Homo sapiens: one gene and its partners. The protein of the gene in region 4 purifies or fractionates together with the protein of the main gene of each other region. This does not show direct contact. Each region holds a gene or a part of one and is shown on either strand. Other genes may lie near its edges. The genes, in order: EXOSC10, ARHGEF1, XRN1 and PARN.

Region 1 (3,628 bases), on a different chromosome or scaffold from region 4:
TGCCCAAGCTGATATTTCACGTCTGCTTTAAAGTGCAAAATAGATGAGGACTCCCTGCAGTTTCATTCTAAATAGTGTACTTCTATATTTAATGTATGCAGTCCAGGGACTTCTTAGTTATTTTAGTGGCCACATTACACTGTTAAATCATATTAGAATTTTCAGCCCAATTCAGAGCTTTAAAGAGTCAATCGAGTATTGGGCATGGGTAATTACTGTCCTACCTGCCTTTGAGCAAATAATGCATTAATTACTTGGCATGACATACTAATGACCTTTATTGATCAACTTTGTAAAATTTTTATTTTTTTATTGACAAAAATTGTATAGGCGATCATTTACATGGTTATGTCTCAATAAACCTATATTATAAGTCAAAAATGCATTTAATACACCTCACTTACCAAATAGCTTAACTGAACCTGCTTTAAATGTGCTCAGAAAACTTCCATTAGTCTACAGTTGGGCAAAATCTTACACAAAGCCTATTTTTATAATACAGTGTTGAATATTCATCTCATGTAATTCAAGTAGCATTGAATACACTTCTGAAAGTGAAAAACAGGTTGTGGCCGGGCACAGTAGCTCATGCCTGTAATCCTAGCATTTTGGGAGGCCAAGGCAGGTGGATCACTTGAGGTCAAGAGTTCAAGACCAGCTTGGTCAACATAGTGAAACCCCATCTCTACTAAAAAATACAAAAATTAGCTGGGCGTGGTGGCGTGCACCTGTAGTCCCAGATACTCGGGAGGCTGAGGCATGAGAATTGCTTGAACCCAGGAGGCGAAGACTGCAGCAAGCTGAGATTGGACCACTGCACTCCAGCCTGGGCAACAGAGTGAGACTCCCTCTCAAAAAAAAAAAAAAGAAAAACAGGGCCAGGCACAGTGGCTTACGCCTGTAATCCTAGCACTTTGGGAGGTCGAGGCAGGCAGCTCACAAGGTCAAGAGATCGAGACCATCCTGGCCAACCTGGTGAAACCCTGTCTCTACTAAAAATACAAAAATTAGCTGGGCGTGGTGGTGCATGCCTGTAGTCCCAATTACTTGGGAGGCTGAGGCAGGAGAATCGCTTGAACCCGGGAGGCAGGTTGCAATTAGCTGAGATCACGCCATTACACTTCAGCCTGGCAACAGAGCAAGACTCTGTCTCAAAAAAGAAAAAAGAAAAACAGGTGGTAAGTGTACTTGAAATATGGATTCTACTAAATGCAAATCACTTTCACATCATTGTAAACTCAAAAACTTACAAGTCAAACTGTCATACATTGGGGACCATCTATATATTTATTACATACAACTTGATGTTTTGATACATACATTGATCTGTTCTTATATATGTATATTTTCTTACACAAATGTCTCTGAATACCAATCTCTTTAAAATGTTAGGTAATTAGGTGGGGCACGGTGGCTCACGCCTATAATCCCAGCATTTTGGGAGGCTCAGGTGGGCGGATCACTTGAGGTCAGGAGTTCGAGACCAGCCTGGCCAACCGGGTGAAACCCCATCTCTACTAAAAATAAAAAATTAGCCAGGTATGGTGGTGCACACCTGTAATCCCAGCTACTCGGGAGGCTGAGGCAGGAGAATCGCTTGAACCCTGGAGGCAGAGGTTGCAGTGAGCCCAATTCAGAACTGTAAAGAGTTGCAGTGAGGCAAGATTGCGCCACTGCACTCCAGCCTGGGTGACAGAGTGATACTCCATGTTAAATAAATAAAATGTTAGGTAGTTAACTCTGCTAACCTCAAAAGGAAAAATGCTTAACCAGTACCTCTTCTACTCTTAGGGTATTTTACTGGATGAAGCCTCAGGTGTAAACAAGAATCAACAGCCTGTCCTCCCTGCCGGCTTGCAGGTCCCCAAAACGGTAGTGTCCAGCTGGAACCGTAAGGTGAGGGCTTTTCAGATTAACTAGAGCTCTTGATGTCAGCTTCATAACAGAGATTTTGCTCATTCTAACATGCATTTCTGTTCTAATTTATTAGAGAACTGGCCACTGTCTCCTTTAGTTTGTTCTCATAAACATACACAAACTAATTACACCCTCTTCTTCTCTTTCTGGAGACCTCTACATGCACATACATTCTTAAATGAATGAATGACCTTTGCGATGTTCTTGTCTCCTCAGAAGTCATAAATTGGAATTTACTTTTCTAATTCATCAAGTTGCTGTGTTATAAAGTATTTGTATTCATTGATCATAGGCAGCAGAATATGGCAAAAAAGCAAAATCTGAAACTTTCCGGCTGCTTCATGCAAAAAATATCATCCGACCTCAGCTCAAGTTTCGAGAGAAGATTGACAATTCCAACACACCATTTCTTCCTAAAATCTTCATCAAACCCAATGCTCAGAAACCTCTCCCTCAAGGTAAATAGTGCATACTTTGCCTGTGTTTGAGTCTCACTTTATTTGATGCAAAAACCAGGAAGGGTGTACAGGTCTCTCTTCTTTGTTCAAAGGGAGCCCACCCTCCTTTGTTCAAAGGGAGCCCAGTTCAGCTATTCCAGAGGCTGAAGTGGGAGGATCACTTGAGCCCAGGAGGTCAAGGCTACAGTGAGCTGTGCTTGTGCCACCACACTTCAGCCTGGGGGACAGAACATGACCCTGTCTCAAAAAAAAAAGCCAAAAAACAAAGGGAACCAGTTTACCCCTGTGTAATTAGAAAAGACATGAATGTGCTAATGATGTTTTTGTCACTGCTGGGATCCCCAGCTCTCTCTAAGGAAAGGCGGGAACGCCCACAGGATCGTCCTGAGGACTTGGACGTCCCCCCTGCACTGGCTGATTTCATCCATCAGCAGAGAACCCAGCAGGTTGAGCAAGACATGTAAGTGTTGGCCTGTGTCTGACTTTCTGCCGTGAGTACTTACCTTTTTGCCACATTTTCACTTTTGTGGAGTATATACATGAAAACAATCTGAGGAGTAGTGATTTCCTCCTTACACCCCAACCTGGGCCTTAGCAATAAAACCTGCTGTTTGTGTTCACAAAGGGCCTACACAGCATTGCCTCATGTAAACCTCACTGCAGTCCTGAGAAGTAGCAGTTGCTCTTATTCCCATTTTATAGATGTAAAACACGAAGGCTGGGCGCGGTGGCTTACGCCTGTAATCCCAGCACTTTGGGAGGCTGAGACCGGTGGATCACCTGAGGTCAGGAGTTCGAGACCAGCCTGGCCAACATGGTGAAACCCCATCTCTACTGAAAATACAAAAATTAGCCAGGCGAGGTGGTGTGTGCCTGTAATCCCAGCTACTCGGGAGGCTGAGGCAGGAGAATCGCTTGAACTTGGGAGGTGGAGGTTGCAGTGAGCCAAGATGGCGTCACTGCACTCCAGCCTGAGTGATAGAGTAAGACTCCATCTCAAAAAAAAAAAAAAAAAAAGATGTAAAAGCAAAATTAGAGATGCAGGCTTCTTGTAGAGTTGGAACTTCTTTGAGACAGGGTCTTGCTCTGTCGCCCAGACTGGAGTGTGGTGGCATGAACACAGCTCACTACAGCCTTTACCTCCTGGGCTCAAGTGATCCTCCTGCCTCTGCCTCCCAAGTAGCTGTGACCACAGGCATGAGCCATCATGCACAGCTAATTTTTGTATTTTCTGTATGCCCAGTCTGGTCTTG
Region 2 (3,628 bases), on a different chromosome or scaffold from region 4:
GAAAAAAGGAAGGAGAGGAAGGAGCAGAGGAAAAAGGAAGGATAAAAGGAAAGGGGGGCAATGAGGAAGCAGGAGGGAGATGAGAAAAGGAAAGAAGAAGGGAGAGGAATGGCCAGACCCAGAGAGCAGCAGAGGAGCATGGGGAGCAAGAGCCTGGGACAGGCAGGCACAGATGGCAGCGGTGACCCTGCACCCACCCACCAGCGCCCAGTAAGCCACACCTCCCGCCCCTGCACCCCAGCCTGGGCACCTCTCGGTTTCGGCCCCCTCGTCGGTACTCTCTGGGGGCGCCAAGGACTCCAGGCTCATTGGGCCCTGCGGGGATGAGTCCCCCAGCTCCAGGGGGGCGTCAGCACCTGTGGGGTGGAGGGAGCAGGGCTGGCTGGAAGGCCTCTGCGGCCACGAGACCCACACTCTGGGGGCCTGGAATTGCGGGGGCTAAAGCTACCCAGTGCCTGGCAGACACCACATGGCTGCTCTGTACTTCAGCACGGGACGGACAGATGTTAAGACCTCTCAGAACATGGCCACTAGGGGCAGGAGCATGAAGATGCAACAGAAGTGGGTGCCCCTGTGTGTCCTGGGTGGATGGGGACCCCAGGCCTAGCAAATAGGTCACAAACATCTCTCCCACCCAACCAGACTGCAGCCCCCTGAGGTCGGGAGGGCCCTGGATTCTGTGCTGCCTCCACGTCCATTCATCCTCCCCACCCTCTCATACTCCTTTAGAGAAAAGCAAACGGAGGCTAAGAAAGGGGAGTCATATCCAAGATACTAAATAAACACAAGCAGTCAGCAGAGCTGGTGTGTGAGCCCTGGCCTGGCCATGCAGAGATCCAAGGGCCTGAGGCCACAGCAGTGTAAGGATGGTGAGGGATGAAGCTCATGGGGCTGGCGGGCTCCCCACCTAGGGGGCCAGCAATGCAGCTCAGAGGGTGGACTGGTCATGTACTCAGGGAAGGTTCTGGAAAAGGAAGGGTTGATGGAAAACGTAGTCCAAGGGGGTGGGAGACGCAGCACCAGCAGAGAGGTCAGAGCCTGGGAGCAAAGCTGTGGAAAGGGCAAACTGAGGGAAGGGGAAAGTTATGAATGACAGTGGTGACCAGGAGCAGGGAGAAGTGGATGCTGAGAGCAAAGGGGAGGTGTTGCTGGGGAATGGCTTCTATCTGGGGGTGCCAAGGGGGCAGGCAGCACCCCCACCCTGGATCGCCGGGCCTCATGGAGCCCTGGCCCAGGAAACTCTCACCTGGTTCCCGGTCTGGGCTGTCCAGGGACAGAGGGTGCAGAGAGACTCCAGGGGTGTCCTGCCCAGGAGCCCCGATATTCCGGTCCCGAGAGGGCATCCCCACGCCTCCCTTCCGGTCTGTAGCACCTGGCTTCTCGGCTGGGGAGACAGTGAGGGAGAAAGAGGGAGATAAGAGAACAGTAACTCAAATCCACAACCGCCAGGGGATGCAAGAGGCTGTGCTCAGGCCCTTCCCCACCATGACAAGGAGCCCCTTCCTCCCTCAGACCCAGGAGCCCTCAACCCCTCCTCCCTCAGACACAGGAGTCCAGGCCCCCAGCCCCTCCTCCCTCAGACCCAGAGGTCCAGGCCCCAGGCCTTCCTCCCTCAGACCCAGGAACTCCCCCAGCCCCTCCTCCCTCAGACCCAGGGGTCTAGGCCCAGCCCTTCCTCCTCAGACCTAAGAGTCCGAGTCTGAGCCGCTCCTCCCTCAGACCCAGGGGTCCAGGCCCAATCCCTCCTACCTCGGACCCAGGGGTCCAGGCCCCAGGCCTCCCTCCCTCAGACCCAGGAGCTCCCCCAGCCCCTCCTCCCTCAGAGCCAGGGGTCCAGGCCCAGTCCCTCCTCCCTCAGACCCAGGGGTCCAGGCCCAGCCCTTCCTCCCTCAGACCCAGGAGCTCCCCCAGCCCCTCCTCCCTCAGACCCAGGTGTCCAGGCCCCCATCCCCTCCTCCCTCAGAACCAGGCGTCCAGGTCCCAGCCCCTCCTCCCTCAGACCCAGGCGTCCAGGTCCTAGCCTCTCCCACACAGGCCCCCAGTATGGATGCTATGGCTACAGGTACATTACCATCAACCTCTGCTTTGAGGTGTCGAAAATCTGGAACTGAAACGAGAGAGAATGAGACAGTGAGTGGGAGCAGCTGGGGAAGACAGGGGAGGGCAGAGGCCAGAGCCGCCTTACCCTGGGGCTCTCCCCGGTTCCAGCGGGCGGCATCCAGGATGCTGCTCAGCCCCTTCTTGGTCTTGGCAGGCTCGTCCGACCGCCGGTTCCCCATCACCTGTGAGAGGGCGGGGAGGAAGACCAGGCTAAGCATCTCTGAGACAACAACAAAGCAGAATTTGACGCTAGGTATCCAGAGTCATGAGGCTCCCAGGGCGTCTCTGGAGAGGAAAGGGTCAGGACGGGGCACTGAGGGAAGCACCTTTTTCCGGAAGAAGTTCCTCCCCGACTTCTTGTCTCCACTCTTGGTCCGCACCCCAAGGTGGCGCATGTACAGGCCAATGGCGTTGACCACGGCAGCACTGTAGGGAAGGGACAGTGAGGGCTCAACACACACAAAGACACACACACACACACACACACACACACACACTCACACACACACTCTCTCTCTCTCCCCCTAGAGGCAGAGGCCCGGCCTTCCCATCCTGACCCCACAACTACTTCCTGTGAGACTCTGAGGAGAGATGAGAGGGTTCAAAAGGACAGGGGCAAGGGCTGTTACCCAATGCCCAGGACCCAAGTGTCCAGGCCCCAGGCTCCTCCTCCCTCAGACCCAGGAGTCCAGGCCCCCAGCCCCCTCCTCCCTCAGACCCAGGAGTCCAGGCCCCCAGCCCCCTCCTCCCTCAGACCCAGGAGTCCAGGCCCCCAGCCCCTTCCTCCCTCAGACCCAGGAGTCCAGGCCCCCAGCCCCCTCCTCCCTCAGACCCAGGAGTCCAGACCCCCCAGCCCCCTCCTCCCTCAGACCCAGGCGTCCAGGCCCCCCAGCCCCCTCCTCCCTCAGACCCAGACGTCCAGGCCCCCCAGCCCCTTCCTCCCTCAGACCCAGGAGTCCAGGCCCCCAGCCTCCTCCTCCCTCAGACCCAGGAGTCCAGGCCCCCAGCCCCCTCCTCCCTCAGACCCAGGCGTCCAGGCCCCCAGCCCCCTCCTCCCTCAGACCCAGGCGTCCAGGACCCCAGCCCCCTCCTCCCTCAGACCCAGGCGTCCAGGCCCCCCAGCCCCCTCCTCCCTCAGACCCAGGCGTCCAGGCCCCCCAGCCCCCTCCTCCCTCAGACCCAGGCGTCTAGGCCCCCCAGCCCCCTCCTCCCTCAGACCCAGGCGTCCAGGCCCCCCAGCCTCCTCCTCCCTCAGACCCAGGAGTCCAGGCCCTCAGCCCCCTCCTCCCTCAAACCCAGGAGGCCGCACGCCTCCCCTGCCCCCCTCACCTCTTTTCTTCGTCGGTAGAGATGGTATGTCTGTAGGAGGAAGAGAGATGTTTGTGACATATTTGCTAGGCCTGGGGTCCCCATCCACCCAGGATACATCTCAGGGTTGCTGTCCTGGGATAGGCAGGGGGAAGAGAGACAGAGAGGGGACACTGTGGAAGGGATTGGGAAGGACTGTCATAAGAGGGAGGGAGGTCTC
Region 3 (3,092 bases), on a different chromosome or scaffold from region 4:
CTATAAAAAGGAATGAATTAGTGGCATTTGCAGCAACCTGGATGAGAATGGAGACTATTATTCTAAGTGAAGTAACCCAGGAATGAAAAACCAAACATTGTATGTTCTCACTCATAAGTGGGAGCTAAGCTATGAGGATGCAAACGCATAAGAATGACACAATGGATTTTGGGGGTCAGAGGGAAAGTGTGGGAAGGGGCCAAGGGATAAAAGACTACAAATTGTGTGCAGTGTATACTGCTCAGGTGATGGGTGAACCAAAATCTCACAAATCACCACTAAATAACTTATTCATGTAACCAAACACCACCTGTTCCCCAATAACCTATGGAAATAAAAAAAATTAAAAAATTGGCCAGGCATGGTGGCATGTGCCTGTAGTCCCAGGTACTCAGGAGGCTGAGGCAAGAGAATCGCTTGAACCTGGGAGGTGAAGGCTGCAGGGAGCCGAGATCTCCAGCCTGGGCGACAGAGCAAGATTCTGTCTCAAAAACAAACAAACAAAAAGACTAATGTTTCTACTTTTGATATCAGCATAGTAATAAAAGAACAAACAGCTTATAAAATCATTCTCAAGTCTTTAATTAAAATCCATAGAGCATTTAACATGAACAGATGTTTAAACTCTTTCAGTGACTCTCATATTTTAAAATCCTTTGCACAGCATCGTGAGGCTAACTTCATGCTAGAAATCTACGGATAACGTAACACCACAAAAATACATTCGGAGTCCATTCCAATGCAAGTTTAAAACACTTTAATTGGCAGACAATGTAAAGATATTTAAAATCAAAAATTACAAAATGAGCACATAAAAGTCTTCCCTTTTGAATTTTTAATAAAATACTTCTCTGTATAAGATCTAATGAAAAATTCCAGTTACTTATAAAATAGTTGAGAAATCAATTAAGATATGTATCTATATATGTATGAATTACACTTTTGTTTAAATGAACAAAATGTTGAACACTTCAATGACAGCACAGCATCTATTACTCACATTAAACTAGATGAAAATACTCAAAGAAGCAGTTGGATACAGGCAAAAGAAAATATGATACTTAAAGCCAAAAGACAAAAAAATCCAAAAAACGAAAACAACCTCCCCATCCCCCACCAAACCCTTAACTGTAAGGGAAAGAAAGGAAGAGAGAACTTAAAGCTAACTATGGACCAAATTCTCATTCTTTTTAATGAGAAACAGCATGAGAATTTGGCTTCAAATTACTAAAACAGCTACAGAAACCTATTTGGCCTGGACAATTTAATAGTATACCAACTGCTGAAACAACCAAGTGCAGTTGGTGTACGGCTGGAGGGAAAAAAAAAAAGACTTTTTACAGGTTTAACTTTGTAAAAAAATGTATCTTTTGGAAACCATAGTCTCCTTCACAAATTGCACTTGAGATGGCTGAATGCATTGATTGAGCAAGGCATTATTATTTGTTCACTGACACACACACAAAAGCAGCTACAGATAGTTGACATTTTGGACTACTAAAACTATTTTATACATGTTTTTCTTCTTTAAGAAAAGGATCTATGATGTCTGTGAAACTTAACGGCCTGTCTGCTCTGCCATGTTTCTGGAGACTTGATGCTGGTTCAACACTATCTCTTACTGTATTGGAGAAGTTTGATGGAAATATGAATAAAGTCAGTCCGAACGACATTAATTTCTGGAATTTTAAGCTTTATCTTGACTAGGAAAGGAAGCTCCTGCAAAACTGATGGTTTCACTGACAAAGCTTACAAAATGTATATACTGAGCACTGCCAGTTTGAGTACTATAATTTATCTCTAGAAAAATGACAAATGAACTTCTGCAATTGATTTTTAAAGACAGAGAACGACTTTCACAGCCACTTCTCTACAATAAATTAATTGTCTTCTACAGTAAAAACAAAATTTGGAAGCAACATGATACCAAGAAATACAGCAAGCTCATAAGGCTGAGAAATTGTACAGTTGCTTTAAAAAACTGTGCTCTAAATAATGGGAAGAAGCGTGACAGAACTAACTTGAGTGAAGATCTGCACAGCTCTATCTCATATAATAAAAGTAAAAATTAGACAACCACTATAAACAGTTATGACTAACACAAATAGAACACATAAATAAAAAGTGAGTAAAAAAGACCTTACAGTTTATCTATTTCCTTGTGCTAGAAAGATACGGTATAGTCCAAAAATGCAGTGACTGGGTATGTCTTATTTAACTGTTTTTCTTCTTCCATCTGCCTCCCTCTCTCTGCCTCCTCTCATTAAAACCAAGAATCTAGCTTAGTTTGGAAGTAGCAGTCTAAAATGAAAGCAGGTACCTGATCATAGAAAGAAACAATAAAAAAACTTGCATCAATAGTTCTTCATTCCTCCACCAATCGGGAAAAAAACCCTTCAATCTTTATTAGTTACCCCTTTGAAAAGCAAGAAAAATCTTAAATTGAAACCAAGGTTCAGTAGAGGTGACTTTAATTTTTTTCTGCAACTACAACTGAGTCTTAGATGTTTAAGACTTTAGTCTACATGATGTTTAAATCAATTAATACATTCAAATTCTAACGCTGAGGTAATTATTAGGTAATGCAGGAAAATGTGAAAAGGAACGAGACTGGAAGGAGCAATCTTCAAAATTCACTTAAGTTGCTCAAAAAAGAAAAAACTTATTGAATAGAAATATTTAGAAATAATGTTTCAGTTAGGAGACAAAGGCTTAAATAGATTGAAGTGCTCTAGTTATGTGGAAGCATAAAGCAATTTGGGGAATCTGTCCTATGCCCTAAACAGTCCACCATTTTCACAAAAAGTCCTCAGAAGATTCAAGTTGAATGAGCATATTTTTAAACTTTGGGGGTGGTCTTAGTCCACCCCATCTCAAAGAGAGAATTTTAAATTTCTTGAAGTCCAACTGCTTTTCAGATATACTCTAAATTCCAGGTCTATCAACAGATTGTTTCCTCAACATGGGGCAGAAATGGCCTCTGCTTCTTACATCCTCCATAGGGAGGGCACATCTCCCATTGACCTCAGGCCCACATTTAGAATGGGTCTACAGGGGGAAAAGAATAGAGAATGCCTGACCACTATCCAGCC
Region 4 (3,188 bases):
ACTTTGTGGCTACAAAACTCCAGGGAGTTTTGTAGGAAGGGAGAGGAGCAGGAAGGGGGAAGAGAAGTTAACATGCTTTAAAAAAAAAAAAAAAAAAAATTTTTTTTTTTTTTTTTTTAAAGACAGGGTCTCACTGCGTTGTCCATGCTGGTCTTGAACTCCTGGGCTCAAGTGATCCTCCCGTCTCAGCTTACAGGTGTGACAGAGGCTCTTGATTAGGGAAACTGTCTTACAAATCGGAATCTGCATAACACCCTGGGATTCCAGTGTGAGTGCTAAGGGTCCTCATTCCTCCCACCCTCCTACAAGGCCACTTACCACCAGGGCTCAGCTCGGTACTGAGGAGCCGATCCATCGTGGCAGGTATAGCAGTTAGGGGTAAAAAGAAGAAGAAAAAAATCCATGAACATCAGCCTTAGTGGCTTAGCAGATTTTTTTAGGAGTGTGAAATTTATCTGTGTATTACTAGAGAGCGAAAACATCATTCACTTATTAAAAAAAAAGAGAGGAGAAAACCAGAGTCCTATGAAAATGTTTTTAATTTTCATCTTTTGGAAATACATTTTTCATTTTTATTTCCACCATACAAAAATGTGAAATATCTAACAATGATCTATCTGAAGCGGGTGGAGCAAAGCAGCGCCATGAGCGTTTGTCGTTGCTGTGATCTGTTTCAACGGAGAATGGGCTGGGACATGTTGTAGATTTGCACGATTTCACACACACACACACACACACACACACACACACACACACACACACACAGACACGTACGCACACACGCTGCCGTACCCCGAGACCGCCATCCAAACAAACGAACAGAGACTCTGGAAAGTGAACACAGCGCCACGCATAAGAACAGAAGTTAACCTTTTTACTCGTACATCCCCCATGAGAAACTCACGTCTTAGGAGAAAGGAACTCTACATAAATATGCCCAAAGGCCAGGGCATACGGCAAGCCCTCTCATGGGTGGGCATGAGTGGACATCTTCCTGAAGGAAGGACAAGCTTGAGAGCGTCATGTTTTCAGGCAGCTATGGTGGGAAGCAGGGAGGCACAACCGATTTTTCCACTGGGAGACTAACCGAGGGCTGCAACTGCCTCAAAATCTCAGTGCGAGAAGATGCACAGGCAGGACAGTACACCCCCAAATTCATGATCACAGCAGCTGGAATGTCAGCTCTTTTTGCAGATTTCACAGCCGACACTCCCCATCAGGCAGGTTCTTAAGCACACTGGGTCATGACAGGAAAGGCCTCACAAGAGCAACACGGAATTCACTGGTTAAGCACGTACACATTCATGACAGCCTACAACCGTGATGAGTGTCAATGTCAACAGGCAGTTAGATTAAAAAGGGGAAAAAACCACAGCCACAAAAATAAAACCTGTTTTCTCCCCCCCAGGAGACAACTTGGTTTCCAACCCCTCCCATACCACATTTGATTAAGTTAAATACAGTGCGGCTTCCAAATGTGCCAGCCGGCTCTTGCTCACAGCGACAGCACCAGCGGTTTGCTGCCCTCAGGTCTTGGTTACCATGTGTCAGGAACTTCAAAGAGTGTGGCAGGGCTGTTCTTCGAGATGCTTCCTGGTGGGAAAGAACAAAACAATATGAACAGCAGGACCAGGACGGCACCTTGAGGAGAGCATGACATGACCAGCAGACAGACAGAGGGCCTGTGACGGCTGCAGACGGGGCCAGCGTCTGGCTAAACAGCTGCGCTGGAAAGAGTCCACAGACAGGTCTTGTCTAGGGAGGGCAGTGCCCAGCATGGGAAAGTGAAACCACAGAAACATCATGGGGGCGCGGAGGAAGCACCTCCCTGCCTCCAGCATCTATCTATTTATTTCACAGGAGTTAAACTGTAGCCATGCACAGTATTCCTCACTGAACACCATGCTGGATTCTTTGTTGGCAATACAGCGGGCATTTAATTCATATAATCTTCATTAAAAGCCCACCAAGGTGGTAACACTACCCCATTTTACAGATGCAAGAACAGATTGAGAGAAGTGGGGTAATATGACCAGATGTACAGAGCTAGCAAGTGGCTGAGATGGGGTCTGAATCCTCCCACAGCACCAACATCCCTGCCAAAGTCCCTGGAAACTGAGTTTCTCTGTGCTGTGCTGTGGCTCTGCCTAGGTGAGAAATCTCAGGTGGGCAGCTGAAGGGCAGAGGGAAGCCAACCAGTGGGGGTTCCAATATCTCAACAGGGGCAAAAGAAGGTTGCAGCTTTTTCCAGCTTCGGTGAAGCTGGCTGGGGTCCTCTTCTTGGATTGAAAAGATCTCTTCAGTGACAAAGTTTCACCCCAATGTCAGAAGCCCTTCTTTTTTATTCATGCCACTTTCTACAATACGAGCAGCTGCGGCCAGCAACTGAGCTGGGACTGGACTTCAACGAATGTGAGGGAAGTCAGGAAAGAGCATGTTCATAATGGAAAGTGTGGCCCGACCAGGCGTCAGCTGCACAAGTGGTGCCATGCATTAAGTCATAAAGTAGGGCTGACGGGGGAAACTGGCAGTCTCTCTTCTAGCTGCTAACACCAAGATTTTAGAAAGGGAGAGAAGTCTTTGATGATACCTCCAATGGGAAATAACTTTTAAATACAGAGGGGGTGCAGTGTCTTACAAACTAGGGAATCATATCACTGAGTTCACAGTGGTTATCATCAGTAACAGGGATGCTTAAAAATAACGAGGTCTGAACACAAGAAAAAACATGAAGAGAATTTCAGCTAACATGAGAATTTCTACTTCTGATCATTTACTGTGATAAGATCCAGGGAGTTAGGGTGAGGAGACCGGGAAAGGGTAACCGGACTCTTTCTGCCCTGGGTCTCATCGCTCTGAACAGGCACGTTCTGGGACACCCAGTAAAGATGGCGAGACCACTCTGGAGAAGTGAAGATGGGCAGGAGATGATCCACTGAAAAGGACTCATGGGGTCCAGTGAAGTACTGCAAGGGGCCTGTGATAACCTGCAGCTAGCCTGGCCTTCCCAGTCCCACAATGATACAATAAACACCTAACTGTATGAAAAGAAACATCCATTAAGGGCACTTTTATAATTCACATATGAAAGAAATATTGCAGTAGCCAATTAGCCATTCTAAAGGTAAAAGCTACAATGCCAAATGTGGGGAACTGAAGTAAATTAAATCCAGCTCAGAGGAAAAAGG

The links.
Region 1: the proteins of PARN (region 4) and EXOSC10 fractionate together in Homo sapiens (co-fractionation; one large-scale study listed by BioGRID). This does not show direct contact.
Region 2: the proteins of PARN (region 4) and ARHGEF1 fractionate together in Homo sapiens (co-fractionation; one large-scale study listed by BioGRID). This does not show direct contact.
Region 3: the proteins of PARN (region 4) and XRN1 fractionate together in Homo sapiens (co-fractionation; one large-scale study listed by BioGRID). This does not show direct contact.

The regions. Positions count from the first base shown.
Region 1 is NC_000001.11:11,089,761-11,093,388, reverse strand, and holds part of EXOSC10 (exosome complex component 10), read left to right. Parts: intron 1-1,791; coding exon 1,792-1,896; intron 1,897-2,209; coding exon 2,210-2,375; intron 2,376-2,720; coding exon 2,721-2,835; intron 2,836-3,628. UniProt on the Homo sapiens protein: Catalytic component of the RNA exosome complex which has 3'->5' exoribonuclease activity and participates in a multitude of cellular RNA processing and degradation events.
Region 2 is NC_000019.10:41,893,105-41,896,732, reverse strand, and holds part of ARHGEF1 (rho guanine nucleotide exchange factor 1), read right to left. Parts: intron 3,460-3,628; coding exon 3,430-3,459; intron 2,527-3,429; coding exon 2,427-2,526; intron 2,283-2,426; coding exon 2,186-2,282; intron 2,108-2,185; coding exon 2,072-2,107; intron 1,385-2,071; coding exon 1,247-1,384; intron 357-1,246; coding exon 251-356; intron 1-250. UniProt on the Homo sapiens protein: Seems to play a role in the regulation of RhoA GTPase by guanine nucleotide-binding alpha-12 (GNA12) and alpha-13 (GNA13) subunits. Acts as a GTPase-activating protein (GAP) for GNA12 and GNA13, and as guanine nucleotide exchange factor (GEF) for RhoA GTPase.
Region 3 is NC_000003.12:142,306,049-142,309,140, forward strand, and holds the end of XRN1 (5'-3' exoribonuclease 1), read right to left. Parts: 3' UTR 562-3,092; downstream 1-561. UniProt on the Homo sapiens protein: Major 5'-3' exoribonuclease involved in mRNA decay. Required for the 5'-3'-processing of the G4 tetraplex-containing DNA and RNA substrates. The kinetic of hydrolysis is faster for G4 RNA tetraplex than for G4 DNA tetraplex and monomeric RNA tetraplex.
Region 4 is NC_000016.10:14,435,180-14,438,367, forward strand, and holds the end of PARN (poly(A)-specific ribonuclease PARN), read right to left. Parts: intron 1,594-3,188; coding exon 1,538-1,593; 3' UTR 522-1,537; downstream 1-521. UniProt on the Homo sapiens protein: 3'-exoribonuclease that has a preference for poly(A) tails of mRNAs, thereby efficiently degrading poly(A) tails.